Linked DNA regions of Homo sapiens: all the other regions are linked to region 1. The links come from fine-mapping of genetic effects on plasma protein levels. A gene starts in region 1. Each other region holds a variant in brackets. All regions are shown on one strand. Distances are between the middles of the regions.

Region 1 (10,711 bases):
CTTGCTATATGGTAGGCACATACACACTTCTTTTTTTCCTGGTGATAGAATATACCAACATAAAATTTACCATCTTAACCATTTTAAGTGTACAGTTCAGTGTTACTAAGCACTTTCCTAACGTTATGCAACCATCACTACCAGCCGTCTCCATAACTCTTTTCATCTTATAAAACTGAAACTCTACACCTATTAAAAACTCCACATTCCCTGCTCTCTGCATGCCCTGGTAACCACTGTTCTACTTTCTGTATGATTTTGACAACTTTAAGTATCTCATATAAGTGCAATAATACAGTATTTGTCTTTTTGTAACTGACTTACTCCATTTAATACAACGTCCTCATTTCATATTCATGTTGTAGGGTATGTCAGAATTTATTTCCTTTTTAAAGTTGAATAATAGTCCATTGTATGTTGATACGGTGTGGCTGTGTTCCCACCCAAATCTCATCTTGAATTGTAGGTCCCATAATTCCCATACGTTCTGGGAGGGACCTGGTGGGAGATAATTGAATCATGGGGGCAGTTCCCCCATACTGTTCTCGTGGTAGTGAGTAAGTCTCACGAGATCTGATGGTTTTATAAGGGGAAGCCCCTTTCACTTGGCTCTCAATTCTCTCTTGTCTGCTGCCACGTAAGATGTGCCTTTCACTTTCCGCCATGATTATGAGGTCTCCCCAGCCACGTGGAACTGTGAGTCCATTAAACCTCTTTTCCTTTATAAATTACCCAGTCTCAGGTATGTCTTTATCGGCAGCATGAAAACAGACTAATACATATGTATATACCACATTTCGTTTATATAGTCATCCCTCAATAGATATTTGGGTTGCTTCCATGTTTTAGTTATTGTGAGTAATGCTGCTATGTATGTGGGTGGACAAATACTTCTTTGAGACCTTGCTTTCAGTTCTTTTGGGCACACAGTCAGAAGTAAAATTGCTGGGTCATATGGTAATTTTAGTTTTAATTTTCTGAGGGACTCCCATACTGTTTTCTACTGTGGCTGTATCATTTTATAGTCCCACCCACAGTGCACAAGTATTCTGTATTATTCTGTTCTCACACTACTGTAAAGAAATACCCGAGAATGAGAAATGTATAAAGAAAAGAGGTTGAATTGGCTCACGGTTCTGCAGGTTGTACAGGAAGCATGGCTGGGGAGGCCTCAAGAAACTTTCAATCATGGCAGAAGGTGAAGGGGAAGCAGGCACGTCTTACATGGCCAGAGAAGGAGGAAGAAAGAGACGCGGGAGGTGCTACACACTTTCATATAACCAGACCTCATGAGAACCCTATCACAAGAACAGCTCTAGGGAGATGGTGCTAAACCATTCATGAAGGATCCACTACCATGATCCAATCACCTCCCACCAGGCCCCACCTCCCACCAGGCCCCACCTCCAACATTAGGGATTACAATTCGACATGAGATTTGGGTGGGTACACCAATCCAAACCATATCAGGTTCCAATTTCTCCACATTCTCGCCAACACTGGTGTTTTTTGTTTTTTGTTTTTGTTTTTGTATAATAGCCATCCCAATGGGTATGAGGTAGTATTTCATTGTAGTTTTGATTTGCACTTCCCTGATTAGTGATGTTGAGCATCTTTTTTATTATTATTCTTTCAACTTTTATTTTAGACTCCGGGGGTATATGTACAGTTTTGTTACATAGGTATGCTGCATACGCACCTCTTTAAGTCTCACAGAACTCCACAATACAGGTACTATTACAGGCACAGAGAGCTTAAGTAAATTGTTCAAATTCACACAGTGTGTTGGGCTGGAATGTAAATCTAGGGACCCCAAATCATGAGCTCTGGCTCTGAATCGTTGCACTAGACTGTCTCTCTCAATACAAAAAAAAAAAAACCCTACTAAGTGTAATGTAATGACACAGAGTTAGTTCTTAGTTTATGTTAACTATTGTTATACAGACAAAAGAGAAATCAGAATGGAGAGCAAACAATTAAAAACAAAGAAAATTCTAAAATTCTATCAACCGAAATCTTTACATAAGCAAACAAATATTTTTATTTTTTAATAACGTTTGGCTGGCTAAAGGTAAACAGTAAGGAAACAGAAAAAGTTGAATATGTTAACCTGATAATCCAAAGTGTAGTTTATATCTATAGATCAATAACCAAAATAGCATTTTAAACAAGTTTGTTTATTATATGTGATAGCAAATAATTGAGAGAGTCCTTATTTCTCACCAACAAAAAGTTGGTAGAATTATGCAGCCATTGAGCATTATAGCTTCAAAGACTTTTTAATGATATGAAGAAAATACTCATGAAATAATGTGACCCGATTACATAAAGACATTCATTTATTGATTCATTTATTTTAAAAAAGTTTGAGTACCTATTACATGGTATAGGCCCTAGTCTATGAGCTGGTCACATCATCCCTCTCCAAAGAGTATATGGTCTAGCTTTCAGTGCAGGCTTTGTAAATAGACTGGCAGAGTTCCTCTTCTAGGGCTTAGTTTCTTTATCTACAAAATAAAGAAGTTGGATTTGATGACTGATACGGTTTGGCTGTGTCCCCACCCAAATCTCATCTTGAATTGTAGCTCCTATAATCCCCACATGTCGTGGGAGGGACCCAGTGGGAGGTAATTGCATCACGAGGGTGAGTTTTTCCTGTGCTGTTCTCATGATAGTGAATAAGTCTCAAGATCTGATGGTTTTCTAAGGGGCAGTTCTCCTGCACATGGTCTCTTGCCTGCTGCCATGTAAGATGTGCCTGTGTTCCTCCTTTGCCTTCTGCCATGATTGTGAGGCCTCCCTAGCCATGGGAACTATGAGTCCATTAAATCTCTTTTTCTTTATAAATTACCCAGTCTTGGGTATTTCTTCATAGCAGTATGAAAATGGACCAATACAATGACTGTCAACATCTCTGCAACAACTAAGTTCTACAAGTGGAAACAGGACCCTTTATTCAGTCAGGAATAAAACATTATTTGATATATCTGCAAAGCTGCAACTCAACTAAAATTGTAACAGCACCATAAACCTATTAATGTTAGTTCTATTTAGAACCGCCCACCATCTTGGTTTATCCAAGACTAAGGTGTGACCTGAGATGTTGAGATTTTTAGGACTAAAACCTGGAGATTCCCAGGCAAACTAAGATGGTTGGTCACTTTAGTTCTATGTCAAATTTTTAAGCTTAAATGCAAAAACTAGTTTTAATTACAGAAACGTCAATTAATCCCTTTTTTGTGTTGGGATGTTTCATATGCAGTAAACAAACAAACAAACAAACAAAACCCGAGAAGAACAGGAACTACGTATATGTAGTAAACCCACTCATTGTCAAAAATTCTTAGAGAAACAATACATTTGGTATGAAAGTTAACAATGATCACAATAGTCACAAAATTTTAAGCTACAGTCATCACCCTCTAAGAGCTTGGTGGTGGTTGTTTTAAAATCATAATTTCAGTTCAGAAATTGGAAAGAACTCTGACTACCGGTACTCTATTAATATTTCAATTAGAGAGAGACATATTTTCAACTTTGAAAAATTGCAGTTTTAAGAGGCATATGATAATTTTCTTTTCAAAATACAGATGTTCTTCTAAAGATTATTCAAATACGACTGTCTTCTGAAGTTTCATCTTTCTTTTTTTTCCTCATTTACCACATAGATCAGTACAATTAGGCTAACACCAATGATAATGTTCCTTCAAACCAAAGCTAAAGAACCTCAAGGGGCTGGTAGGGGAATCCAGAGGGGTTTGTAGTGTCTCAACACAGCCAATCGAGGGGCAAGAACTCTTTACATCAACAATAAGACCTTGCTCTCCTGGGAACTCTTGGGCTCTTGTCTCCAATTCCGTTCTCCTTCAAAAATTCCAAGGTCTTCTACCACACCTTAATAAATAACTATTAAGTGCTTTTTTACTAACTAATAAATTCAGGATCCCAGGACTGGGTGAGCTCATTAGGAGTAATTCAGATGGATTTGAGCTCTTTAAGCAAGAAGCAAGTAAGAGATTTGGTTATGCTGGTTCATTGATTCCTCTTCGTCCAATGATGCAAAAATGCGTGTTTCCTCTTCATCCATCCCAATGACAAGGAGCTTTTAAGTGTCAGTTAACAAGACAGTCCCGAAACCCCTTTGCAGAGTTAAAAAAGGGTAATTTCTAAAATTTGGACCAATTACCAATTCAGGCAATTCAGCAAATTTCTAATAATTACACCACATTTCAGACTCTTTCATAATTGTCATGCTCATTTTTCCTCTTCTGTCCACAGCAAGCCCCATCCTCTCACCCAAATTCCTTCCCCCATCCCTGACACACATTTCTTCCTAATGATAATGCTCTTCTCTCTGTCTGGAACCAAATGCATGCAGTGGTCAAGTAGAAATGGGAAAAGCTGCCTTTCTCACTCTTGCCTTGGGGAAGAGGGAAATTAGTTTAAATAAATGATATGCTAATTTGAAAAGAAATGAATCGAACAGTGGAGAGACAGAGTCCATTTCCTCCACTGGAGCAGCTAGTGCCTTTGAGATATTCTGTCACATGCGGAATCATTATCCCACCTGTCTGAATTGATGTCTTGTTTTAGTCTTCAATACCTGCCTAATAATGCCTAGAGCTTACATCTGTCGTTGAATGCTTACTATATACTAAGCACTGTCCTAAGCATTTTACATGTTTACTCCCACTTAACCATCACAATCCTTTGGGATAAGTACTGATATTAACCCTACTTTAGAGCCAAGGAAATTAAGCCTTAAAGAGATAAAGTGACTTGCCATTAGGGACACAGCTCATAAATTGCAGGGCTGGGACCTAAGCAGTGTTGGCCTGGTTTCAAAATTCACACCTTGGTCCCTGACTCACACCATTCTCATGAAGTCTCTTCCAAAACCTGGAGGCTGTTCTAGATCTGGCCTCCCAAGAGCAACTCTCACCATCATTAATTGCTCCGACTGCTCCTCCAAGACCTACCTCTGTAAAGCTCCTCCTTGAAGGGCACAACCTCATCTCTCTTCCACTCCCAGGAAGGCAGGCTGGAAACCTAATAGAGACTCCCTAAGAAACCTGCATTCTATCTTTCCCTGACCATTCAATTTCCGTACTTCCACCAGAGCCCAACTTCTATCAGACAAACTCCATGCTATCTGCATGCTAACTCCATGGATAATCTGCATGAAAAGGGGGGAAAGAGACAAAATCATGTTACAAAACTTGGGCAAGGGTCTAGACTCAACTTGCTTTGAAAGATCTTAAATCTTCCCATTCATTTGTAGACAGCAGTGGGCCTTTTTCTTCCTCTGCTCTGCACGACCTTCTAGCCCAAGTGCTAGTATCACCTTTTCCTAAAGACTTTTAAGACAAACTGTGACCATTTATGTCTACATGACACAGTTTCAGGATAACAAAGTGTGAAGACACACAAAGACGTCAAACATTTATCAGAGACCTAAGCGAAACGCCAATAAATGTTACAGGGATCAAGAATATGGTTACTGACATTGAATGTATCCTGTGGCTTTGAAGAATCCAAAGGATGATTCTCGAATAATGTATCCTTCCAAATTCTCCAGAAGTTCTAAGTTTAGACATCATAATGAAATGTCACCACGTTCCTCTGCCAGAAGTTGTTCAGTACTGAGGGGCTAATGATGCTTTCGCTTAAAGCCGATTCCCCCAATAAAGGGTGCCAAGGCTTTTCTGAAGCCCTGCTTCCGGCTGGCGACTTTGAAGCTGAGACGCAGGTTCACGCGCAGTTTCCGAAGACCTATTCCGTCCCCACCCTCCTCCCCTTCCTCGGAGACACCTCCACTTAACACTGCCTTCTCAGTCCCTCGCCGCCTGTTTAAACACAACTTCCACCCCTCACAAATCAGAAAGCTGTAATTTCAAAGTTTCAGAAACGTTTTCGGAAAGCCTCCTCCAATGGGAAGCGACTTCGCCGCTGAGTTAAGCGTCCGAATCCTCCTTCCCGCGGCAGGGACACCGGCCCGGGCCAGGTCTGCGGAGGACGCCCCCGGGCGCGCACACACAGCCCGAGGACGCGCCCTGTATTTTAAGACGCAGGGTCGGATTTCACCCCGAAACTTGGCTCCCACAGCCCCAGGCCGAACTGTGTCTGGTTCTCAGCCCCCGAGCCCGAGTTCTACGCCGCAAAGAGATGGGGCCCCATTGTGCCTAGCTGGCCTCCTAGCACGGACGTGTATTTTCTTTTGGTCTGTCTTTTGCTAAAAACCGGCAGTGCGCTTCGCCTCCCTGCCCAGCCGCAGCCTGCCGTCCCCTAGACAAAAAGCGGCGACCGCGGCCCGGCCACCCGAGCCCCGCCGCGCTGCGCCTTTGTTGGGCGGTCCACAGATGGTGCCCAGCACGGGGCCGCGCCGAGGGCGGGGGCGGGAGGCCGCGAAGAGGGTCGGGCGGGAGGGGAGGAGACGGCGGAGCAGCCAATCCGCGCGCGGCCCATCAGCTGACCGCCTTTGCTTACACCAGGTGCACGCCGGCTGCGGGGAGCACAAAGCGGGGCGCACCGCGGGCGCCGGCAACGAGCCGGTGAACGAGGCGAGGCCCGTGCGCCCGCGGCTGCAAGCGCCCGCCTGGCGGGGAGAGGGGCCGACGGCGTCAGCCCGGGCGGCGGCATCCCTAGGCGCCTGGGGCGCCTTCCTCCGGACCTGGCCGCTCGCTGCCCCGCCCTCTGCACCCCACTTCTCCGACCCTCCTTCCCAGTCCTGCCTCCCCCTGCCCTGGCCTCTGAGAGCCGACTGAGCCCAGCCCCGTGCAGCAGCGGTTGCCTGTGTCGCCGCCTAGTCTCCGGTCTTGGTGCTCTCCCGGGGGTGCCCCAAGGAGCCAGTGCGCGCTGCGGGCTGGGAAGGAGGCGCCGCTCAGCTAGTCCTCCTCCTCCTCCTCGTCTTTCTCCTCCTCCTGCTGCTGCTGCCGCCGCCGCCGCCGTGGGTGCCGGGTCCGCGCGCACCCCAACACCCCCACCAGCTGGGCCTCGGGGTAAGTCCCTGGCCGGCCGCGCCGCGGCAGGAGGTGTGGGAGGCAGCGAGGGGAAGTCGAGGCAAACTTGGTGGCGTGGGAGACCCTACGGGGTCTGGGGAACCTCAGGGTAAGATCGCGGGCCTGAGGGGGACGAGGGGGCGCGGCTCACGGAGCTGGGGAAAATGACGAAGTCGGGAAACGAGAATATAGTGCCCCGTTTCCCCCCGTCCCCCTTGCCAAAAAAAAAAAAAAAAAGGTGTGGGAGAGCGATAGTTGGGAAGGCAGGCCAGATAGAAACAGGCAAAAAAAGGCAGTGACCGGAGCCGAGCCTGCTGGATTTCAGGGGCCGACCAGGGGAGGGAGGTGCCCGGGGACGGGGAGGGAGGAGGGCTGCCGGGATGTGAACCGGGGAAGGCAGCTGGGGCTGGAGAGCAGCGCGGAAAGGGGGCCCAGGGAGCTGGAAAGAGGGCCAAGAGGAGGGCAAGGAAGGTGGCGGGCGACGGGGAGAGGAAAGAAAAAGGGTGTCTTGGCGGTGGCCTTGGTAAGAGAAAGGGGCAAGGGGTATAATTGACAAGGCACTGAAAGTATTGAAGTCAGAGCCTTGGGAAGGATCTACCGAACTCTCGGCGGTCCACGCGGGGACAGACCTCAGCCCGTGAGCCTTGAGCTCCACGCGGGGACAGACCTCAGCCCGTGAGCCTTGAGCTCCACGCGGGGACAGACCTCAGCCCGTGAGCCTTGAGCTCCACGCGGGGACAGACCTCAGCCCGTGAGCCTTGAGCTCCACGCGGGGACAGACCTCAGCCCGTGAGCCTTGAGCTCCACGCGGGGACAGACCTCAGCCCGTGAGCCTTGAGCCCAGAAGGAGTGGCAGCCTCAGGACGTTTGCCAGGTGGCCTGGAATGTGAGGGAAGCCTCAGCCCCGCCAGGAACAGAGCTGGCGCTGAGTTCCCGGCTCGGCCCGGGTCAGAAGCGAGGAAAGTTTGCCGGCGAGTGTCCTTTGTGCTGCGTGGAGAGGGGTGTGGGCGGCCGCCGACTCGGCGCTTCCCCGCCGCCCGCCCAGGGAGTCCCTGCCTGGCAAGCTGGGGCTCGGGGAAAAGTCCAGCAGCGAGAGGGCCGCGTGTCCCGGGACGGTTCCAGGGGAGCCCGCGCGGAAACGCGGACCAGGCGCTTCGGCCCGGATGCCGGATCCAGGAGAAGGGGACCTCGCTTGCCGTGTCCACCGCCGCGGCCCCAGCGCCAAGAACAGAGCCTGGCCGTGAGTGAACGACTGGCCGGGGTACAAATGGTTCTGAAGCACTTGAAGCTCACAGGCAAAGGCTAAGAGTCTAAATCCCATCCCGCCGTAAGTATTTTCATTCCCAAACCTAAATCGTAAAGGAAAAGTGGAATTCTAATTGGGTGAGGGAACAGGTGCTGCCGACTCTGGCTTTTGCGTGGAGGATTTTCTAAAAGACAACATGTTTTGTTTTGTCTTGCCATGACAATCTAAATCATGTTAGTGGAATAGGCTCATTATTTCATTTTTAAAAGCTAGGGCTGGAGGAGTGGAAAGTTCAGGAAGGCACTTTGATCAGTATAAATCTAGAGTAAAAGTGTTATTGGCTCCAGGGCCATATGTGTCCCGAAGTCTCTGATTTGCATGCAAATGTGAGCGGATCCTGGCAGATGTCTGGCCTCATCCATTCACATGAAGGAATTTGAAAAGACAAGGAGTCTTCAGTTAACAATAGACCTTAAGAAAAGAGAATAAAGACGCAGTGTGAGTTTTTCTGTTTGGGAATTCCATGGTTTGCTGACACCTTTATTCAGGAGCCAAATTCTTTAAGTGCTATTGTATTGAAAGCTCAAAGTGCTGCTTGCTCTTTACCTGGCTGTATATATTCGTGCAATATTCAAGCTGGATATTCTAAGCTAGTTAGGAAAAGGTTTGTGTGAAGCAGACAGTAACTTTAACCCACTTCTGGCGGCTTGAAGTGATTTCTGAATTGACCCCTCAACTTTTCGAGTTTTCTTTTAATAATTTGACTCTTGCTCAAATTTGGTCCTCATCTTCAGAGCTATTCATTATAGTAGAAGATCGTTGTCGTTGACCGACATGAAGATTTCCTGAGAATGTCCACTGTCTAGCTGAGAATGTCCACTGTCTAGCCAAAGTCATTTCGGTTCTTAAGGCACCAAACTGTAGAACTGCAGGTGATGCAACTGTCCCAACCCTAGTTACCCGAGTGGTTTTCAGGTCACATAACAGTGAACGGGGAGGTAGTCGTGCAGTAGACTCTGGAGCAAGGGCCTTTCTGCCGTGTCTAACATTAGCTGCGTGACCACACTGCACTGTTCACCTCTTGGCGTTGTGCGACAGCTGAACAAAAGGCAGGCAGTGTGGGCCGCACGTGAGGCAGGCGATTATATTAATACCTACGACTAACCAGCCCCAGTGGCCTCTTCTTTTGTCAACCTCAAACACTGTTGAAGGGAAAAAGAACCTATTCACGGAACAGCATTTGCCCCAGTATTCTATATATTCACTGAAAGGGACATTAAAATACAACACCCCCCCAACCCCCGCCAGAAAAAAAAGACAACATTGTTTTGGAGGGCTCAGTGTTTCGGGGGAGGGGTGGACAACAGATGTTAGTCTGCTATTTTACATGTTCCTTTAAGTTATTTTTGCAGGTTCAGTGCCTTTTATACATAAGGCAATATTTTCACAGGATGGGGAAAAATGAATTGAATCAAATTTAAGTAAGAAAATGTTATAGCCAAGTTTGCATTTTGTGTCTTAGAGCTATATAGAAGTCAGAAAGTAACAAATCATTCTAATAAACTCTTAATTTGACTCTACACGCCTGATGTCTTCCTGATAGAGTTGAAGGGTAACTTAAAATAAACTTGACATTTCTAGACTATAAACCATTTTGTTGTAAAGTTATCTAGATATTTTTGAAACCTGGTAAGTTAAAAATGACCCTCACATTTGTGAAACCTTATCTTTGGCAATTAACCTGCCTGTGTAATCGTTATTCTGCAAGTCTAATGAAAGGACAGATTAGAACTCATTCCTTGGTAAATAAAACTGATAAAGTGTTTAATTATTAGAAAAGGATCATTCTGCTAAATAAAAGATCTCAAGACCAGATCCAACTGCAGACTGTGTTTCTAAAACATAACCTCAGCTAGCTCTGGTTAATGTCTGAAATTCTGGGAAAGCAAGGAAAAACTCAACCATTGATCTCTCTCTGGTTAGTCTGTGCTAAGGCCACCTTCTTGATCTAAACTGCTAGAGCCATTACCACATATTCTAAAGCAGTGACACTCATGGGAATATACTAGGTACTAAAGAAAATCGGTCTCTACGGAGTTATATTGCTACTTCCCAAGCCAGTGGAATATAAATAATAATGATAAATAATCAGAATGGTGGGCTTTTTATACCACCATAAGTAGGCCATAAGTCATAAATAAAATATGGTAAATTATAGGATGCAGATGCCAGTTTTACGAGACTTGCACAATGCTTACTTAAAATTTATTTTTAAGTTACAAAATAATAGTTCCCCGAATGATTCATTTCAGCACTAATGTCAGGTTATTCAAATATTGTATTTAATTTTAAAAAATTATGCTGAACATCTGTTTTGGGTTAAGCCAATCTGGAGATAAAGCAAATTCCATTGTAGAATCATATGATCATTTAGAATCATATGTTTCTGGGAACAATGAAAGTATCT
Region 2 (10,711 bases), 31 kb before region 1:
TGGAAGCAAGGCACAGAAATAGCCATATTGGTTACAGCTCTGCATTTCCCTTATTTAAACACAGTTTGAACTCTTGGTCACCTTTGATTGGCCAAAATTCAGTGATTGGTACAACAGTAGACTACAGTTTCTTTACAATTCCATTTAGGTTATAGCTCACAATATAAAGACAAACCTTTAGGCTGAACTTAAGCTATGCAAGGAGGCAGCTTAAGGGTAAACTTGATTAAAAATGTGCAGACTCTAGAATGGTCATGTAATCAAGCAATAAGACAGTTCTCCAGACCTAGAATCACATGTGATAATCTGCCATTTCTACTCCTAACTTTCACATCTAAAATACTCTAAATACAATTAGACATCAAGCAAAGTAGAAAGAGCCAGGATAGGACACAAAAAAAGAGCAGCCAGATAAGTCAGGAGAGTTCCTTCCTTCCCTCTCTTTCCTCCTTCCTTCCTTCCTTCCTTCTTTCCTTCTTTTCCTTCCTTCCTTCATTCATTCATTTACGAAGGTCCTGGCGACACAAGGTCTCCTCATACCTCTTTGTTGAATGCGTCCGTCCACTCACCAAATGGGTTTGAGCATCCACTCTGTTTCAGGCACTGTGGACAGTGCACCAAATAGATAGGGTGCCTTTCATCCCCTATCAGCCCCTAGGTGGATAATCATACCAATAATGTCTTAAAACTGTGATAAAGAAAAAAGTACAAGATGCCATGAAAGTGTATACCAGAGGCTGCTTACCTTAACTTAGGGACTCAAAGCAGTTTTCCCTGGGGATGTAACATTAATTAATTAGGACCCACAGGGCACTGACCATCCCTTTCCAAATCCTGGTCTGCATCACTGTCTGTTCACTTGCCAACTGAACTAATAACGAAAGTTAACATAAACTGAGGACTTAGTATGTGCTCAGCTTTGTAGTAAGTGCTTTACACAAATCAATTATTTAAACTTCATACTAAATCTGTGTTAAACCTGGTGTTATTATTTTTCCAATTTCGTAGATGAGGAAGTAAGTGGAGGCATAGCAGGATTAAGTACTTGCCCAAAGCTGGAAAACTAAAGTCAAAAATCAAATCCAGATCTGCCTTCCTTGACATGTCATGCCCTTAACACTTGACTTTCTTGTAAAAGAGCCATTCCTTTTCTAAAGACATCAATCTAACTGTTAAATAGCTGCATAATAAACACATACACACACACACACACACACACACACACACGAACAGCTTTTCCCAAAAGAATAAATGTCAATATATCTTAACCCACTTTTCTCGTAACGAGTTGATCCAGCAATAACAAGAATATTCCTCGGGTAATGCCTTTTTATTAAGAACAAATATGAGTTACGAGACACGATACAGTATCCAATCTCAGAAAGCAATTTTCGAAGATTGAGTATCTCCACTTTATGCTGCAAAATAACGAACACATGGACACCCCAGAATGCTTATCCAACATAGCTTGCCACGTTAGCATTTAAAATAGGCAAACATGTGCTGGGAGATATAAAGAAATGTAACTATACAGATGATTTCTTCCCTGTTTAGCTCAACATTGATCATTTGCTGTTAAGTAAACACTTTAACTTAAAAGTAGTCAATGAGAATTTGGATCTTTCTGAAGGAGTCACACATCAAAAGCTTACAATGGGGAGGTGAGAAAAGGCAGTGGAATGTCTAGTCCTGCTGAAAGGCTGAGAAAAATCCTTTCAGAATAAGTCATCTACTCCCAGCTACTCAGGAGGCTGAAGCAGGAGAATGGCATGGACCCAAGAGGCAGAGCTTGCAGTGAGCTGAGATCACGCCACTGCACTCCAGCCTGGGCGACAGAGCGAGACTCCGTCTCAAAAAAACAAAAAACAAAAAAAAAAAAGAATAAGTCATCTACATAAGCAGGGAAGATCACTTGATATGCACTGGCTTTATGAAATATGGGAATTGCCCCCCTTTCTGCAAGTAAAATAAGAGGAAATATTTCCCCCCTTATCCAAGTGCAAGAAAGATCATTTCCATTAACATTAGGAATATAAAAAGATTTTCTTCCTAGCTTGCTCTCCAGCAACAAGATCTCATGGACTTTCTTAACCATTTGACACTTAACACCGTTGTAAATAGTGCTTCCTGTGAAGGTTTGTAATGCAGCCTGACTCCCAATCCTTAAACATCCTGCTGTGCAGAGGGAATAGCCAAAGCCAGAAAACCCTAGAACTATTTTTCCTCTCTCCTTCAAAGCCACCAAAACCTGGTAGAAGCATGAGTTTCTTCTCCTCTACCTTTTGGACTTGGGAAATCTGGACCTATTGACATGAGATAACATGTACACATTCTGCCTAAATGTAATGAATGTTTCAAAGGTTTCACAGAAAGCTCAAGCAATGCAACAGAATGGATCTTTTATGGGGTTTTTTTTTTTTTTTTTTTGCATTTTGAGAGGGTAGGTGAGGAAAACATGTTTTTCAAGCTCTGTGATGTTGCTTGATAAATCACAGCAATATTTCTGAAGCGTATTTAATTACAAATTGGCTTGAGTTTTCAAAAGGACAGGGCTTACAGATAGATATGTCCTGAATATGAAACATTACTATACTAATGATGCATTAAATTATTTTATAAAACAAAAACCCGAGAGTACATAAAAATGTATCCACAGCTCATCATATACGCTATGTGAAAGAGAGAGGCTCTTGGCTAAATTTCAAATGCCTATGAGCACAAGAAAATGGAACCGTCTAACTAAGCCTTATGTTTTCATTCCCTCATCCCACAAATATTTAGCAAGGGTTTACTATGGACGACACTATTCTAGGTACTGAGGATACAACAGTGAGTGAAATAAAGTCTTCTTCTCCAGGGACAGAGGTTCTATTTGGGGAAACATGATAAAAAACAAAACAATGTGCAATAAAATGTTAAGGAGGGATTTGGTCTCTGCAGATGAGTTTTGCAACAAAAGAGGGCAGGATGGAAGGTGGCTAGGAAGGGTGATCGAAGGAAGGTCTTATGAAATGGTTTGCCAATGTCATACCTCCTATCAAGAGGTGGTGAAATCCAGAAAATGTCTTGAGTTAGATGGCCAGGAGATATGGACCCTCACTATACCCTTCTCACCAAGGGCTCGTTTTTGTTAGGGACACTTATATTCAAGATCTTAGGCAAGCCCAGAAAACTAAGAAGACTTGAGATATTAAATAATTGGAAAGAGATCTCTCAACACTGTTTGCTCGAAGGCCAGGTCTTTTGCTTTATTGGGAAGCAGGAAAGAACAAGGACATTGGAAGCAGAAAGACCTAAGTTCAAATTCTAGTTCAACGTCTTGTCTGTGTGACCTCTGGTAAGCTGCTTTATCACCTTTCTCACTCCAACTCAGTATCTTCATCCATCAACTAGAAATCTATAACTGCCTCAGGAATTTCCGTGAAGATTAAGTCTGATCATGCATGCAAAATTAACTCAACGCTTGGCACATGGTGAACACTCAATAAGTGGGATATGGCATTATTGTAGGAGATAACAAATAACACAATGCTAATACCTTTAAAACAAAGCCAACAAGACTTTTTACTTTCTCAAGATGCCCTTTCTCTTTTCCAGGTGAAACGATCTTATTATTGTAAATTGCTCTCTTTAGGCTAAATGGAACCTGTCATGTTATAGATTGGTCCACTAAATATTTTCATTTTAAAAATAATAGAAGTAATTTGCAGCTATTCAGATAAGCTGAAGGAAAAAAAATCTACTGAAAACTAATGCAAGTCATTCAGTGACTGGGTACAAATGATTTATAATTTCAGGGGCCAGGTTTTCCCGGGTTTGGACTCACATGAAGACCGGTCATGGAGAGAGAGGAGACTTGGGTACTGAGTGGGTGTGTTTATGTGCATTTGATTGATTGTATTCTAAATATAAATATTAAAATAAACTTGAACTTTGATTACTTCACGGATTATTATTACACAGAACTCTCTGCTAAAGCCGGCAGAGAGACTTAAGTGCTGACTTGAAATATATTTCTAGGTATATTTATATACTACTCAGAAACAAAAAGGAAATAAATATTTTTAAAGCTTTGCAAGAAAACAACATGCAGCAAAGAGATTAGCCATTTGGTGACCAAAGGCTCAGCCAGGGGAAAGCGTATGTCAGGAATGTAGACAGTATGCGACGGACAGACATGGTGCTATTTGGAATAGGAGTTCCCAAGAAGGATCTCTTACATTTGATCCATGAAGCAACAGGTGTTCTTGGAAATAGGATCCTAGGTTTGGCTCAGACCACAACCTCTGTCAAAATGAGAACAAAGGATTGGAAAAATCACCACCACACTGACAATTCCCATTAACCTCTGGCATGGAACGACACACTCTTATCTGCCCACAACTGCTGCCCAGTCTGCAGCCTGAAGCTTGTCTCCATTTACAGGCTGTGGAATTACCCTAGCCTCTGAAAATTCACCAAGAGCAAATACTGCTGCAACCTGCACTTCTTTGGTGACTAAGACCCCCCTAAGGCTCAGAGGGAAGGCTTGCAGATATAT[G/A]TTTATCTTGATGAGCACATATCACATTGCCTGGGCTTTTCAATCCAGGCCAGTAATTGTCCCTCTTTGTTTGGAAAATGCACAGGGATCGAATATCCATCAGTCTAAGGCAGTATATAGGGGAAAGAGGAGGAAGGAGCAGGGCAGAAGTTGTTGCCACACACCCATGGCCATGCTACTTTCTCAGCTAAAAATGTGGGGGTGTGTAGTATAGCAGTGACATCCTGGAAGAGGCTTCTAAAGAAGGAAAGGCTAATACAGGACACTGCCCAACCCCTAACCCAGGACACACATCCCAAATTGGTGCAGACTTTTTCTTGGCTGTCCATAAATAGCCAATCTCAATGCAGCCATCCAGGCAGTCATTTCCAACTCATCAGACCTGGTATATAAGAAGAAATCTGCTTCATGTATTTCTGCATAAGGACATAGTATAATCTTTCCCCTGTAGGAGATGAAAACCTAAAACAACCTCAAGCTTAGGGATTTTAACACCATTCATTCCTGGCTAGATTTTGACCCACATGGCACCATTCTAGAAACCACATAGTCCATAAAGGAAAATGTTATTGCAAAGTAGCAAATGTGAAGGCTTGAAATGTCAAGTGGATTTAAAGAAAAACTGTACTTCTAAATGGTAACAGGTGGCCTTTACTTTTCACACTCATTTTAAGAGAGAAGATCACAGAGCAGAACACGCTCTTCCTGTCAAGGTGAAGATGGATAATCAGGCAGGAGGTGAAAATTAAGTCCAACATAAGGATGTTACAAGTCAAAACATTTGAAAAGGTTATAAAAATTTGTTTTCCATGATACTCAGTGGTTTTGAATCCTTTTGTGGAAGGATAGTATGTGGAATTTGTTGTGTCTTTTCAACTATGATCTGTCCTTCAAGTAGAAAAAAATGGGTTTTGCAGAGAAGGCCAAGTTGTATTTCAAGAGGGAAAAAAAAAAGACAGTAGAGAATGATTGACAAATAAATACTTTGGTGACAAATACTTGCATGTGTCTTCTCTACAGTGTCATCCAACTCTATAAACAAAGTTGAGTCTATCCACATTTAATCAATTCACAGGTGACTTCCTACCTGGAAGAGAACTAAGCCTGGCAGCCAGCAAGAGGCTCACTGTGAAACCAAGGTCTTTTAGTTTTGTACACAAACCATTGTGTCGTAGCTCCTTATTGGCTGTGTTTTCAATTCTTCAAATCTAGCCGGTTTGCATAAGCAAACAATATTTCCACTCCACCATTTGATGAACTAATGTCTTGTGCTACCAAAATAGAGAACTTTAAGATGGAAAACCTCTATGGAGGCCTCTAAGCCATCTTCCTGCCAAAGTGGCATTGTTGCATGGCATGTGTTTTCTAGTACTTTACTTAATCCCATTTTAAATATACCAAGCAAAGAGCCTTTCACTGCATAAGCACTCTTCACCATCCAAGAGCTTTCCTTCCTTATACTAAACGTACACTGAACTAAGTTCAAACCATTATTTCTTTTTACTGTTCCCCTCCAGCACCCTATTTTGTCCCCAGTAACAATTGTTATGGAGAGAGAGGAAAAAAAAGAGTGGACAGAGAATTGATTGTCAGAAGCCTTCAAAAAGAAAACAAAGAGTTGAAGAACTAGCTTTTAATTCTGCTACAGAATGAAGAATGCACGAAGCACTTTATGAGTTAGTTGATTCCCTGCAGTAGCAGATGAATTTTCTACTCAGTACCCCTAGTTTTTTAAATGCCTTTTATGCTTTCTTCATTCCCACATGTTATGTCTCACCCTACTACATCCTTTGGGTGTTGATTTCCACAGCTGAGTTAATGCAAGATGAAAGAGTTGCAGAAATTCTGAAAGAGGAAGATCTATTACACCCATTTAATGGGAATAATGTGTTTTTTTTTTTCTGCCAGAAACTCCTAGAGGAATACATTCATCTTTAGCTAATCCTTTTAATCATTTTAAAACAGATTTCCTATTATTTTATTGTATAATGAAATCCTTTACACAGTTGATCTACTAAAATGAATTCACAAGTTAGGCAAAACGATGTTTAGATTTTGACATTCCAATGATAATAAACAAATTAATCTTAAATGATAAAATCACTGATTAGAGTCATATGATACAATGATTTCTAAGGTCCAGAGAGGTCACTCAAAATTCTAAGATCTTTTTTAAAAATTGCATAACAATTTTCAATTCAAAAAGTAAGGAGATGTGATGGGACTGACTGTCAGAGAGGCCAGTCATTCCTCCTATACATAAAGGAGGATATATAATGGTCCCATGTATCATAATTTATGCCTGGAGAAACCCCCAGAATTTTTCACATTTCTCCTTTTCATTTCATACTATTTCATAAGTATGTTTCATCAGTTTTCATAAAGTCCTGTTTTCTTTTAACGACATGTGAATGCATTTGTGGGAGCATACAAAAACTCTAAGAATAATAATAAATGAGATTTAGTAGGCATTTACTTTAATCCAACAACTAGTGTAAGCTCTGTAGGTAATAACACATTTCACCCTAACAAAATAGTGATGGGTTTTATATTAAGGCCATTTTAAAAATGAAGAAACTGAGGTAAAAAAGTTAAGTTACTTCTCTAACTTTATTCAGTTAAAACCAGTGTGTCCAGAACCTATATGCCCAACCATCATATTTCATTGCATCCCTCAAAAGAGCACCCTAAGCTGATGCCATCTACTACTCCACAGTTTTTTCTCTCAACCTTGATTGAACATTAAGAAACAAAAACTTAGTAGCAATTATCTGAGTTGTTTGCCTTCAAAAGTTGCTAAAAAGAAATACTCAGAAATTTTCTGAGGCCAGAGGACCACTTCAAAACAGCTATACTTGTTGAATGTTGTTTCACTCCAACTAAAATTATATATTGTCTCAAAATGGTGTGCTCGGAAATAATTGGCACCATCTTGCCCATTTCTGAGATCAGGTCAAGGCAGTATTCTAAAGAGTGGTCGGCAGCCATCTTATACTAACATTCATCCTGGAGAGGATTAAAACATCAACAAGATGTAATTGCTTTATTGACGCACCCCTCATTCCACGGAACCCTCACCACCACACTGAGGTGTAGAGAAGCACTTCCCTAGATGAAATGGAAGACACAGAGTTTGAACCAAGGTCTGTATGACTCCAAAAATTTCTCTTTTGACTCTGCTATACTCACAGACAGCATGAAGAGAACTTCTAAGCTTCTGGAGCAAGGGAAGAGCTTAGATACAGTTTATCTTCATTTTGCAAGAATTAAAAACAATCTCCGATATCAACCCTTTTCCATCTCTATTCTCTCTTTTGGTTATACTTCTTCCAGATAATCCATTCCCAAAAATATGACACCCATAAATCCCTCTCTTCTCTGAATTCCTACAGAATATACATGCCACCACAATTTTCTCAGTCATTACAGGAAACTTGTATGTTTACTGAATAGTTCCATGCATGTTCCCTCCCTATAAACATTTCAAAGGGTTTCTCTTATATTCTGAATAGATTGCTTATGATTATGAGATTTTAGAACAAGAAGGAACTCGTGGACAGCATCTGGTAGAAACCAATTATTTTTACCAAGGAATAAAACTAGTGTTAAGAGAGGTTAAACAGCCCATCTCAGGTCACACAGCTAGTTAAGAAGCAAATTAACACCAGTATTTAGAGGTTTTTACTCCTGATCCAGAGCTCTTAACCCCATATCCAATTTTTCAGCTGAAGAGAAGCCTCACAGGAGATTATACAGAAATATCTGGCTGCTTCCATGTGTTCATATTCACATGCTCAAAAAAATTATACGCAGGACTAGGGGGTCTGAAAATAAAAAGACCATTAGTAATATTTAAGAATTTCAGTATATAGGAGATTTGACAAGGACTGGAGTCAGAAATGTGGGATAACAAACTTTAGCCAAGAATAGACGGCAGAAACCCCAGGACAGTATACATGATATTAAACCCATGCAAACCACAAGAACCAATGATCAAAAAATGATATATGGATATTTAGAAACAAATTTCTTCTCCACTGGATGCCAGTGTGAATTTACTGAGAATAAGTTGCCCTAAGCTAACCTCATTTCTTTCTTTATAATTTTATTACTGGTAATAATTAAAGCTACCATTTATAGGAGAATCTATTAGTAATGCCATGTGTGTATGTAATTGCTTTATTAGCGTACCCCTCATTCCACAGAACCCTCACCACCACACTGAGGTGTAGAGAAGCCCTTCCCTAGATGAAGTGGAAGACACAGAGTTTGAACTCTGCTCTGACTCCAAAAATTTCTCTTTTGGCTCTGCTATATTCACCGAGAGCCTGAAGAGAACTTCTAAGCTTTTAGAGCAAAGGAAGGGCTTAGACACAGTTTATCTTAATTTTATAAAACATATGACAATCTTCTATAATCACGTATTGTTATGGATATTAGCATTTATTTAAAAAATCATTCCTAATGAATGTTACTTAATAGATTAATATTGAATTGGAGAGAAGTCTCTCGGATAGTGACACAAAGTTCTGTTTAGGGATCACTGCTCTTAAACATTTGATCAATACATCAGATTAAAATGCAGAACACATGTCTGCAAAACAAACAAACAAACAAACAAAAAAATCTTTAGAACAGACAACTCTAAGAAAGACAGCAGTATAATGGCCAAGAAAATAAAGTTTCAAAAACATCTCCACAGACAGCTATACTGGGCCAAAACTAATCAGAAGAAATTTAACAATTATGAAAGTAAGCTCCTACCTTTAAGCTTCAAAAAAAATCAGCTAAACAAATGCAAGATTAGAGAAATTCAACTTGAGAGCCATTTCTCTCTTTTTTTTTTTTTTAAATAGTAACTTTTATTTCATCATTGTCCAAGCTCGCCTTCCAGACAGAGAGTATGTGGGATGCCAAACCAGCAGATGAGGCTCGATGGGGATGTGGATACAGCTAGCTGATGAGCTGCTGATCTACCCTGAAAGGAAAATTTGGGTTCAAGTCATGCAGAGCCCTACTGGGGTATCACATGAAAGGGGCTGGGTAGACCAGAGAGAAATAGATCAAGGCAGTGGCACATCATAGGAACAACAGCCCTTGAGGCAGTGCTGGTAAATTTGGAGCCATGAGAAGGAGGCAGAAGTCCTGAGTTACTAGACTGGCCATGAGGTTTTTCCAGGCCACGAGCAGCCATAAGCAATAGCAAACAGATGAGTGTGGCCCTGTTCCAATAAAACCTCATTTATGGACACTGAAATTTGAATGTCATGTAATTTTCATGTGTCGCAAAATATTACTCTTCTTTCAATTTTTTCCCAATCATTTAAAAATGTAAAAAGCATTCTTAGCCTGCAAATGGTACAGATACAGGCAGAAAGCCTCTGTTCGCCAATTCCAGTGGTAGACAATAGTTGAATGAATGAATGAATGAATGTCCTTTATTCAATGTTTTAGAGAACAGAGATAACACCAAAAGCAATGGAAGATGAATTTCACAAGAAGAGAAAATAATTATATGATCATTCAGCTATTTTAGAATAATTCTGGGGAACATGTTAAAGTATAAAAGAAAAAAAAAACACTAAAAATAGTCATAACTGTGCAGTAGTAACCTGAGCCAAAAACTGATTCAAGGAAATGTGGAATTGCTTCCAACAAAAAGAGAGGAAGCTCATCATTTCATAGCTTAAGACATTCCTTGAAGCTGAGGCCAGGAGAGACACATTAGCATTGAATGTATGCAAAAAACAGGACATAGCAGCATTTCCATGACAGGACTGGGTTTCCAATTAGCAGTATTTCAGACTGAAACACAAAACTTTTTTCCCCCCAGAAGAAAGGCTTTTTAGAAATACATACAAATTCGCCACTGCATTCCAGCCTCGGCGACAGAGCGAGACTCCGTCTCAAAATAAATAAATAAATAAATTATTTTCTAGGACACTTTGGATTACTATAAGGTTAATTTTTAGTATTTACTCCAACTTATTTGACTATTTCAATTTCATTCTGCTTGCACTGAGAAATTGAATCAAACGTAGCAGCACAAATGGTAGCAGCCCCCTTGTTGGAGGAGAAATATGAGAACAAAGCTAATGGGTTTCCTTATTAGATGTGTGCTTTCCTTGGAAAACTATGCTCCTGAGTTTAGTACCAGGAAATAAATAACTC
Region 3 (10,711 bases), 48 kb after region 1:
GAACCTATAGCCCCATAAAGGCTATTTCTCAATACTAACAGACTGTTTTGGAAGTCTCTCACACAACTTTAATACATATTTTACTTCTTGGTACATTTCCTTACATTCAATAGAAACATAAAAATTAGTTGAGGCTGGGTGCGGTGGCTCACACCTGTAATCCCAGCACTTTGGGAGGCCGAAGTGGACGGATAACGAAGTCAGGAGATCCAGACCATCCTGGCTAATGTGGCAAAACCTTGTCTCTACTGAAAATACAATTAGGTGTGGTGGCACGTGCCTGTAGTCCCAGCTACTCACAAGGCTAAGGCAGGAGAATTGCTTAAACCCGGGAGGCAGAGGTTGCAGTGAGCCGAGATCGCACCACTGCACTCCAGCCTGGGCGACAGAGCGAGACTTTGTCTCAAAAAAAAAAAAAAAAAATTAGTTGAAATTCTGTCTCAGTTATGAAAGGTAGCTTTATTCTTTTGGTTTTCTATTTTGAGTTATGACTGAGAAATAACCTGTGGCAGAGGTTTTCTTAACAATGTATTGTGGCCAGTGCACCTGTTTCAAGATTACTCTAAACAGAAACAAGAGTGAAATAAATTTGTGGAGTTAATAATAAAAATGTTATTCTCTGTGGTATGTTTTCTTTTCTTTTGTTTTTTTAAGACAGGGTCTTGCTCTGTTGCCCAGGCTGGAGTGCAGTGGCGCCATCTTGGCTCACTGCAACCTCTGCCTCCCAGGTTCAAGCGATTCTCCTGCCTCAGGCCCCTGAGTAGCTGGGATTACAGGCACGTACCACCACGCCTAGCTAATTTTTATATTTTTAGTAGAGACAGGGTTTCACCATGTTGGTCATGTTGGTCTCGAACTCCTGACCTCATGATCTGCCCCCTGCCAGCCTCCCACAGTGCTGGGATTACAGGCGTGAGCCACCGCGCCCGGCCTGTATTTTTTCATTTCATAGAATTTCCAGATAAAAGTCAGAGTCAACTAGTTTTATAATACTGAAAAGTTTTGCAAATACAAGCATGTCACTTAATGATGGGGATGTGTTCTGAGAAATGTGTCATTAGGTGATTCCGTCATTGTGCAAATGTCATAGAGTATACTTACATAAACCTAGGTGGTATGTAGCCTATATGATATATGTGGCTTATATGATATACCCTATTGCTCCTAGGCTGCAAACCTGTATAGCATGTTACTATCCTGAAGTCAATGGGCAATTGTAACACAATGGCAAGTATTTGTGTATTGAAACATAAGGGTATAGTAAAAATATGGTACTATTAATACAACTGTATGGGACTACCATTGTATATGCGGTCCATCATTGGCCAAACTTTCTTTATGGTGGCACAAGACTACATAATAAATGGTAAAGTAACCAGACTTGGAGATGGGGAGGAGGGAGAAGAATGCCAAATGTATGTTTCCTCCCACAGACTAGCAGGCATCTAGTATCAGGCAACACACTTATACAATCATTTCCTACTCCTGTCTCACACTTGCCAGAATCTGGATTTAATTTTTTTTTTTTATTGTTAGACCAGTAATGCAGTTTTCATATTTTGTATAACAAAAAAGTTGTAGGACTTTTCCTTCTTACTGTGAAAATATGACTCATTAAATACATAACTTTTAGTATTGGCCATTTGTATTCTTATACTCTTAGTCACAAAGATAACTACGTTTTACAAAGTCGAAAGGTTAATAATAGCAGCTAGCATGAATTCAGAGCTTGCTATGTATTGAGCACTGGGTTTAAACACATATGCTCTATTTTATTAAGTCCTTATAGTAGGAAAGTGAAGAATACACTAGTCACTGAAGTTCCTTCAGTGCTCAAGACTCAAGTGCACTATAGCAAGACAAACACCAGGAAACATGTAACTCTGCTTCGAATACTTTAGCAAGTGAATGGCCCAGTTTGGGAAAGCAAGACAAACACTGGATCCATAATGGCTTTTTACACCTGATTGGAATGCAGAAAAAATGGAACCACTAACTACTAATATTATCTTTGCCAGCAGGTGAGCAGTACATACCTGACTTCAGAGGATTTTATTGAAACCAATAGATGATGGTTAATAAAAACAAATATCCTCAGCTTTCCTTCTTTTACTTGTCATCTGACAACCACTATTTAGCTAAAACTAAAATGGATTAGAGATACAAGATGATGAATAACAATTATTAACTTTTGTGAGCATATAATGTGAGTCAGCTACTACACTAAGAACTTTACATAGATTCCCTTAATTTTCTCAATAATCCTATGAGAACTGTCCTTGTATGAGCAACCCCATTTTATAGCTGAAGATACTTGAGGCTTCAAGAGGTTATATAAACATGTTCATGGTCAACAGTTATTAAGCAGTGAGTGACATTCTCACGAGATTAATGAGATCATCTGTGTGAGATACAAATACATCTATTGTGTATGTTTGTGTTTTTAATGGAGACCAATGGTATGACAGAATGAAGTCCTTTTATCAGTCAGTCAAGATCTGATGTGGCTATTCAAATATAGGCAAAACTGATGTTTTCCTTTTTTAGTTAAGTTAAATGTAATATTTAAATAACTGTGAATATTTAGAATATTCACAGAATTGTGCAACCATCACCACAATCTTTAGAATATTTTCATCATCTCAAAAAGATACTTTGTAGCCTTTAGCACCCTTCCCACTGTACCCCCCCCCATACCCCTGGCCATAGGCAACTACTAAATTACTTTCTGTCCCTGCAGGTTGTCCTATTCTGGATACTTTGTATATGTGGAATCATAAAATAGGTGATCTTTTATGACTGGCATCTTTCAAGCATGTTTTTGATATTTTCATCCATGTTGTAGGATATTAAATTAACTTTTTGCATAGGAATAACTGAGCTAGAAAAGCATTGGCTGAATATGTCTGCAGAATGTAGCATTTAGAAAAGAAAGACTTCCAGGAGACAAATGAGGTAGTAACTAAAATGTAAATAACTAAAAATTAGCTTTGAGTCTTTAATAAACTACCTTTCATGTTTTGCTTTCACTAGGAATGAACTTTTAATTTTTTGGAGCTATAAATACATGTAGTTTCTAAAGACATCTTTGTTTTTAAAGAAAAGACATCTGCAGGCTTTTTCTTAGTGTTCCTATTAAGTATGTATGAGTGTGTGCATTTGTGTGTGTGTGTGTGCATGTTTAGTGACTTTACATGTGTATACATACAAATGTACACAGTCATATATGACTAGTGGTACATGGAATCTCAATTTAATTGTAAAAGTGAAGGAGTTCTAAAACTAGTTTTAGTATAGTAAGTGGGATATAGTAAGAATGTCCTACAATTTAAAAGCTTATTTGGTTATCTTCAATGGATTTTGAATGTATTCAATACTAGATTTGCGAGTGACTATGCCTTTTTAGTAAACAAAAGAAAGGCTATAATGTAGAAAGTATATGGAATAAGCATAACATCTGTCCTAATCTAATTTTCAGGCACATCTCCAGACTTCAATTTGGCTGAAATAATTCATGCCACGGACCTGTGCACATGCCTGGAATTGAGAGACACAGTTAAAAGACTCCAAGTTGCTTTCTGCCTTTTGAAAACTCCTGAAAACCATCCCTTTGGACTCTGGAATTCTACACAGCTCAACCAAGACTTTGCTTGAATGTTTACATTTTCTGCTCGCTGTCCTACATATCACAATATAGTGTTCACGTTTTGTTAAAACTTTGGGGTGTCAGGAGTTGAGCTTGCTCAGCAAGCCAGCATGGCTAGGATGAGCTTTGTTATAGCAGCTTGCCAATTGGTGCTGGGCCTACTAATGACTTCATTAACCGAGTCTTCCATACAGAATAGTGAGTGTCCACAACTTTGCGTATGTGAAATTCGTCCCTGGTTTACCCCACAGTCAACTTACAGAGAAGCCACCACTGTTGATTGCAATGACCTCCGCTTAACAAGGATTCCCAGTAACCTCTCTAGTGACACACAAGTGCTTCTCTTACAGAGCAATAACATCGCAAAGACTGTGGATGAGCTGCAGCAGCTTTTCAACTTGACTGAACTAGATTTCTCCCAAAACAACTTTACTAACATTAAGGAGGTCGGGCTGGCAAACCTAACCCAGCTCACAACGCTGCATTTGGAGGAAAATCAGATTACCGAGATGACTGATTACTGTCTACAAGACCTCAGCAACCTTCAAGAACTCTACATCAACCACAACCAAATTAGCACTATTTCTGCTCATGCTTTTGCAGGCTTAAAAAATCTATTAAGGCTCCACCTGAACTCCAACAAATTGAAAGTTATTGATAGT[C/T]GCTGGTTTGATTCTACACCCAACCTGGAAATTCTCATGATCGGAGAAAACCCTGTGATTGGAATTCTGGATATGAACTTCAAACCCCTCGCAAATTTGAGAAGCTTAGTTTTGGCAGGAATGTATCTCACTGATATTCCTGGAAATGCTTTGGTGGGTCTGGATAGCCTTGAGAGCCTGTCTTTTTATGATAACAAACTGGTTAAAGTCCCTCAACTTGCCCTGCAAAAAGTTCCAAATTTGAAATTCTTAGACCTCAACAAAAACCCCATTCACAAAATCCAAGAAGGGGACTTCAAAAATATGCTTCGGTTAAAAGAACTGGGAATCAACAATATGGGCGAGCTCGTTTCTGTCGACCGCTATGCCCTGGATAACTTGCCTGAACTCACAAAGCTGGAAGCCACCAATAACCCTAAACTCTCTTACATCCACCGCTTGGCTTTCCGAAGTGTCCCTGCTCTGGAAAGCTTGATGCTGAACAACAATGCCTTGAATGCCATTTACCAAAAGACAGTCGAATCCCTCCCCAATCTGCGTGAGATCAGTATCCATAGCAATCCCCTCAGGTGTGACTGTGTGATCCACTGGATTAACTCCAACAAAACCAACATCCGCTTCATGGAGCCCCTGTCCATGTTCTGTGCCATGCCGCCCGAATATAAAGGGCACCAGGTGAAGGAAGTTTTAATCCAGGATTCGAGTGAACAGTGCCTCCCAATGATATCTCACGACAGCTTCCCAAATCGTTTAAACGTGGATATCGGCACGACGGTTTTCCTAGACTGTCGAGCCATGGCTGAGCCAGAACCTGAAATTTACTGGGTCACTCCCATTGGAAATAAGATAACTGTGGAAACCCTTTCAGATAAATACAAGCTAAGTAGCGAAGGTACCTTGGAAATATCTAACATACAAATTGAAGACTCAGGAAGATACACATGTGTTGCCCAGAATGTCCAAGGGGCAGACACTCGGGTGGCAACAATTAAGGTTAATGGGACCCTTCTGGATGGTACCCAGGTGCTAAAAATATACGTCAAGCAGACAGAATCCCATTCCATCTTAGTGTCCTGGAAAGTTAATTCCAATGTCATGACGTCAAACTTAAAATGGTCGTCTGCCACCATGAAGATTGATAACCCTCACATAACATATACTGCCAGGGTCCCAGTCGATGTCCATGAATACAACCTAACGCATCTGCAGCCTTCCACAGATTATGAAGTGTGTCTCACAGTGTCCAATATTCATCAGCAGACTCAAAAGTCATGCGTAAATGTCACAACCAAAAATGCCGCCTTCGCAGTGGACATCTCTGATCAAGAAACCAGTACAGCCCTTGCTGCAGTAATGGGGTCTATGTTTGCCGTCATTAGCCTTGCGTCCATTGCTGTGTACTTTGCCAAAAGATTTAAGAGAAAAAACTACCACCACTCATTAAAAAAGTATATGCAAAAAACCTCTTCAATCCCACTAAATGAGCTGTACCCACCACTCATTAACCTCTGGGAAGGTGACAGCGAGAAAGACAAAGATGGTTCTGCAGACACCAAGCCAACCCAGGTCGACACATCCAGAAGCTATTACATGTGGTAACTCAGAGGATATTTTGCTTCTGGTAGTAAGGAGCACAAAGACGTTTTTGCTTTATTCTGCAAAAGTGAACAAGTTGAAGACTTTTGTATTTTTGACTTTGCTAGTTTGTGGCAGAGTGGAGAGGACGGGTGGATATTTCAAATTTTTTTAGTATAGCGTATCGCAAGGGTTTGACACGGCTGCCAGCGACTCTAGGCTTCCAGTCTGTGTTTGGTTTTTATTCTTATCATTATTATGATTGTTATTATATTATTATTTTATTTTAGTTGTTGTGCTAAACTCAATAATGCTGTTCTAACTACAGTGCTCAATAAAATGATTAATGACAGGATGGGGTTCCCCTGTGCTTTTACCAGTAGCATGACCCCTTCTGAAGCCATCCGTAGAAAGTACTTTGTCCTCCAAAAAGCTAACATACGGTTTTGAAGCAGCATTGAAACTTTTGTAGCAATCTGGTCTATAGACTTTTAACTCAAGAAGCTAAGGCTAGACTTGTTACCTTCGTTGAATGATGTTAGTTGACTGTACTGTAATGTTGTATCAACTGAATTGAATGTTTGCCTTTAAACAATGAATTTTCTTTTTCTTTCCTTTTTTTTTTTTTTGTTGTAATAGTTAAAGAGGCTTAGAACAAGCTAACAGGCAATAGAAATATGTATATCAGATTTTTTAATGTAACAAACTACATGTTAATTGTTATCTTATTCTTTTTATCTTTAGTAGACACTTTTAAAAGAAAAGACAAGTTTGTTGTGTTTAACTCACCAACACGTGGTGTATAATGAAGACAGAACTATAATAAATTAGTTTTGTTCTGATTTTTTAGAACACTTGCAATAATGTATCATTTATAGTTCTTGCTAGTTGCAGTGGTAATATTTTTCACATCCATAAAAACAACTACCAAAATAAATCAGCTGTAGCATGTTGCTTTTTAAAGCTAGGCCCTAAAAGGTTTTAATTCTTTTTCTAAGGGAAGAAATGTCTATTTTAATTAAGATATTTTAATGAACAGGATTTCTGTATTTTAAATAGTACTGACTAGCACCTAATGGGCAGTGGGAGGGTGGTTCATATGAAGAAAAAAAGGTGTATTGTTGTATCCCATGCATAAATAAAGGTAAATATATATATACACCAATATATTCATATATACTCACACACATCCCAACCTGTCACACACAATGCGTGTGTATATATATATGAATATATTGGATATGTCATTTCTGTAAGAGTTTTGTTAAAACCTGATTTTCTTTTGTAGTATCCACATTCTTCATCAAAGTACAAAAACGTCTGTGGAGTGTCACAAACTGTATGACATGTTATTTCTTTTTAACAGTTGTCTATATGCTTAGACCCGTGTTAGTCTCTATATCTGTGTGGCAATATCTGCTGAGACAAGTAAATGATTAATAGAAAACAAAACAACTTCCGTACAGTTCAAACTTTTCATCCAAATATATATAGACAGTTTTGGAGAATTGTTTCAAGATTATAGAGGAAACATGTAACATTTAGAGCAGATGGAACTAGGTTTAGGTAGAAGGCCAGTTCCACAAAGGGCAGAGGGAGGGATGGGATTTAATAGGTAAAGAAGAACCCATTTGAAAATAAAGGTTGTTTCAAAAGGCAGCTGCCGCCAGGCACACAGCATTCCATCAGACAGGTGCCAGACAAGCAAAAGCAAGGAAGTTGGCAGAAAGAAAGTCCAGGTGATGTAGGTTGAGGTATTTCTTTCTTTGGCAGTATCTTGCTTTTGTGAATCACTTTATTAAAAAAAATCACTTTCTTCCCATTCTTAAGGGGTTTTGGCAAACAGAATTTCAGATCTTGAAACAAATGAGCTGCAACAGAAAAATAAGTACCTGAGCTCGAGGTATCCCTTCCCAAAGCCTTCACTTATTGGTGAGAAAAACCTGGGCCCAGGGAGGGCTTGCAGCTTACCCAGTTCGGACTCCTGCCAGTTCAGCGCTCTGCACTCCATTGATTGTTCTAGGCCCGGCAGCCTGTTAGGTTCCTGTGCAGGGCCCCTCTTTTGCAGTTCTGAATAACCTCTAGTGCCCCTGCTTCAAAAATGCAGTACATCCTCAAGTTCCCATTTACTCAGGATACATTTTAGCACAGGGCAGATCAGACGGTGTCTCTACTGTTAGTATTGCAAAGTATGTATGGGAAACACAGAGAATTGGAGCTGCGTTGAATGCAAACTTGAGGTGTTTCCCTTGAGGAATTCTTGTCTTCAAACGTCTGCAGAGTAATGGACCATGTTACAACTTTCCTGTTCATCTGTGAACCATGAAAATGGATGGCACTGATGCATTAGACCCTCAGCAGCCTGCAATTGCAAATCTGCGAGGTTTCATTCGGCCCATAAAGCAAACATTTGAACTTACACAGAATGAGCACTTAAATACGGGTGCAATAAATGAAGGGAAAAACCTCAGCCGTTTCTCCATTCTGAAGATATAGCAAGCACCGGGAAATCTAAGATTTTTCATCAACAATATCTTCTGCCAGCCCAGTTTGGGGGGAAAAACCCCTTTTACATTTTTCTTCAGTAAAGTACTGGAACTTACTTTTCCCTGTCTGTGCTAATGAGCTGATTTTCAGCTGATAGAAAACAAAATGATAGAGTACTTTTTTCCTTGGCCAAGTATTTTCTCATTTGTATTTAATTTCATAAATTAGACAGCCAGTGAAATTAGACCTCAAACTAGGTCCTGATGGATAATGAATGTTATGTCACCTTTAACAGTGAAGTGGTTATTATAGGTCACTTTCTAATTTCATATTTTCCCTTTTGCTTTCTGCTGCCTTCAGGGTATATAGTGTATCTCTAACCTGATTTTTCAAGGTTATTTTTGGAGCAGTTTCTTAAAACAGGCATTCCCTAACTTGCTCATTTAATTAATGAAAAATTGAACTGATGCCATGGATATAAAAACAAATGTAATGTTTGATTGTCAGTGTTTCTGATTTGGCAAAAAGGAATCATCTCTATTTTTTTGCAAACAATATCAAAGTGCATATTTTCTCTCATGTGGTTTCTATTTATTCAATCATTCATTTGTTTGCTAAGGACGCCATAGTCAACCCTTTACTTGGTGTTTGTTTTCTATTTCTGTATTCATTTTCCAAGGCATTTTCTTTTCTTTATTACTGTTTTCACCATTGGTGGGGTAGGGGGAAGCATTTTATATCTCCAACAGTTTGCTGGGAAAAACCACACTTTTTCCCTTTCTATTCACTGGAAAGGGAAATGTAACTACTTCTGAAGCATTCTAAGTACAACTGGAAATGCTTTCTTCACCTCAGTTCTTTCACTCTCGCCTTGCTTGCAAATAGACTTTTTTATTGTTATTCAAAAGGGATTAGCTTGGAAGAAAAAAAAATGTTTCTTTAAAGATTGGTGATTCAGAATCACCATCCGGAGGTCTAGAATAATTTTGGCCTGGAATCTCTGCAGGACTTGATCTAATCTGGTGTGGACAGTTCCCCTGCCCCAACCCCCACTTCCCCCATAAGCACTGATACCAGCTTCTTTAGTAAAAAGGAGATGCTGAGGGAACTAAGGATTTTTATGTCTGCTGGTTCAACATTGCCCAGAACAGGTAAACAGAACTAAATGGGTTTCTCATATTAAAGAATTCCTAGGAGACTTGACGGCGGGAGATGACAATGAAGGCTTTCTTTATGTCTTCAAATTTATTTATCTTTTCTTCTTTAAGAAACCTTATATGCTGGGAATCTTGAGGTACATTCCAAAACTATACTTATATCAGGCTAAATTTTAATTCTAATCTTGAACTCCCCCATACTATTCTCTGTTACACACTCCTAAAATTTTGAAATGTATAGATTTTTGTGGAGAAGACACCAAACTCTTTCCTTAGCAGGAAACCATGGAAAGCTTTTATAAAATTAATGACAAACTCAAGTGTTTAGCTCCAAAGCTTAAATGCGGAAATGTGAAGTTCATATAAACTGAGCAATTTGCAAGGGTACCTGACATGCCTGAAAACACAGGGAACAGCCAGACAATGGCTCTTGCATAATTACCAAATTGTGGAGTTTGTGGATGTGTTTATATTTAGGAAATCATCCAGTCCCCCTCCCCAGTTTATATGGATGCCGTAAGACATTAAAGTGGCATTATGCATTTGCCCTCCTGACAGCCCATTATGTCAGTTATATATTAAATATGAAGCAAATCCAGTATCATGTACCTCATGCAAGCAGTTCTGGCCACAAAGTGCGTCAGATCATGCCTCTCCTTTCCACCTGGGCCTCCCTGTCTCCCTCCCATAAGATTAGATGGACAAAGTAAATTTCAGCCTGGGCCCTGACAGAGTGATCATGAATTTCTAGTAAGGGGTGGGGGTGTCCTGAATTAATAAGGTAGCATTTTAATGCATCAGTCTGCGTATTACCACGTCTCATTCATATAAACAAGACAGTGGTCATGAGGAGAAGGGAAACAAACCATGTAATTGGGGCAGAAAGGACTACATTTTTACAGCTGTGACTTAAGTGGGGAGAAGCATTTGTTGTGCATCTAACCCTCTGCTAGGAGCTTCACAGAGATTACTTACATTGAATCCTTTCAGTTGCCCATGTCGTCCCTATGTTAGAGAATAGTGTTTACTCAGCCTCACAGAGCCAAGCAACTTGCCTGAAATCTCACAGCTGGTAAGAAACAACTGAGACTTAACTCAGGACTGACTGACTAAAACCAGTAGTTTTCCAACTGTATAATGGTCCACAAGCTAAATCTAGGTCAGGAATAGAGAGCACATAACTC

Which allele goes with the higher level. Positions count from the first base shown, and alleles are read on the strand shown. Strength reflects both the effect of a copy and how common the allele is.
In carriers of allele G in region 2, the plasma level of the protein whose gene starts at base 6,510 in region 1 tends to be lower than with A alone (strong association).
For the plasma level of the protein whose gene starts at base 6,510 in region 1, T is the low allele of the variant in region 3 and C is the other (weak association).

What was found. PIP is the chance, under the fine-mapping model, that this variant and not a neighbour inherited with it causes the effect. Protein levels are from antibody-based Olink assays in UK Biobank. Linkage for the fine-mapping came from a reference panel and not from the study's own genotypes, which makes the PIPs less certain.
Region 2: its variant is fine-mapped to the plasma level of the LRRN1 protein (UK Biobank, PIP above 0.99).
Region 3: its variant is fine-mapped to the plasma level of the LRRN1 protein (UK Biobank, PIP above 0.99). The variant lies in the coding sequence of LRRN1. If it changes the protein, the assay may bind it differently, which can mimic a change of level.

The regions. Positions count from the first base shown.
Region 1 is chr3:3,792,922-3,803,632 of GRCh38, forward strand. It overlaps LRRN1 (leucine rich repeat neuronal 1), which reads left to right and starts at 6,510. Exons shown (of 2, transcript NM_020873.7): 1 at 6,510-6,998. LOC100130207 (a long non-coding RNA gene) reads right to left here and starts at 7,954. Exons shown (of 6, transcript NR_149025.1): 1 at 7,780-7,954. RefSeq lists silencers at 6,411-6,480, 6,491-6,580, 6,721-6,830, 9,364-9,658.
Region 2 is chr3:3,761,554-3,772,264 of GRCh38, forward strand. The region is part of intron 5 of LOC100130207 (a long non-coding RNA gene); the gene reads right to left. Among named protein-coding and RNA genes, the nearest start is that of LRRN1, 33 kb to the right of the region's middle. The variant G/A (reference allele first, on the strand shown) is at 4,541.
Region 3 is chr3:3,840,886-3,851,596 of GRCh38, forward strand. It overlaps LRRN1 (leucine rich repeat neuronal 1), which reads left to right. Exons shown (of 2, transcript NM_020873.7): 2 at 3,479-8,949. The coding sequence starts at 3,757. The coding sequence ends at 5,907. Among named protein-coding and RNA genes, the nearest start is that of LRRN1, 47 kb to the left of the region's middle. The variant C/T (reference allele first, on the strand shown) is at 4,309.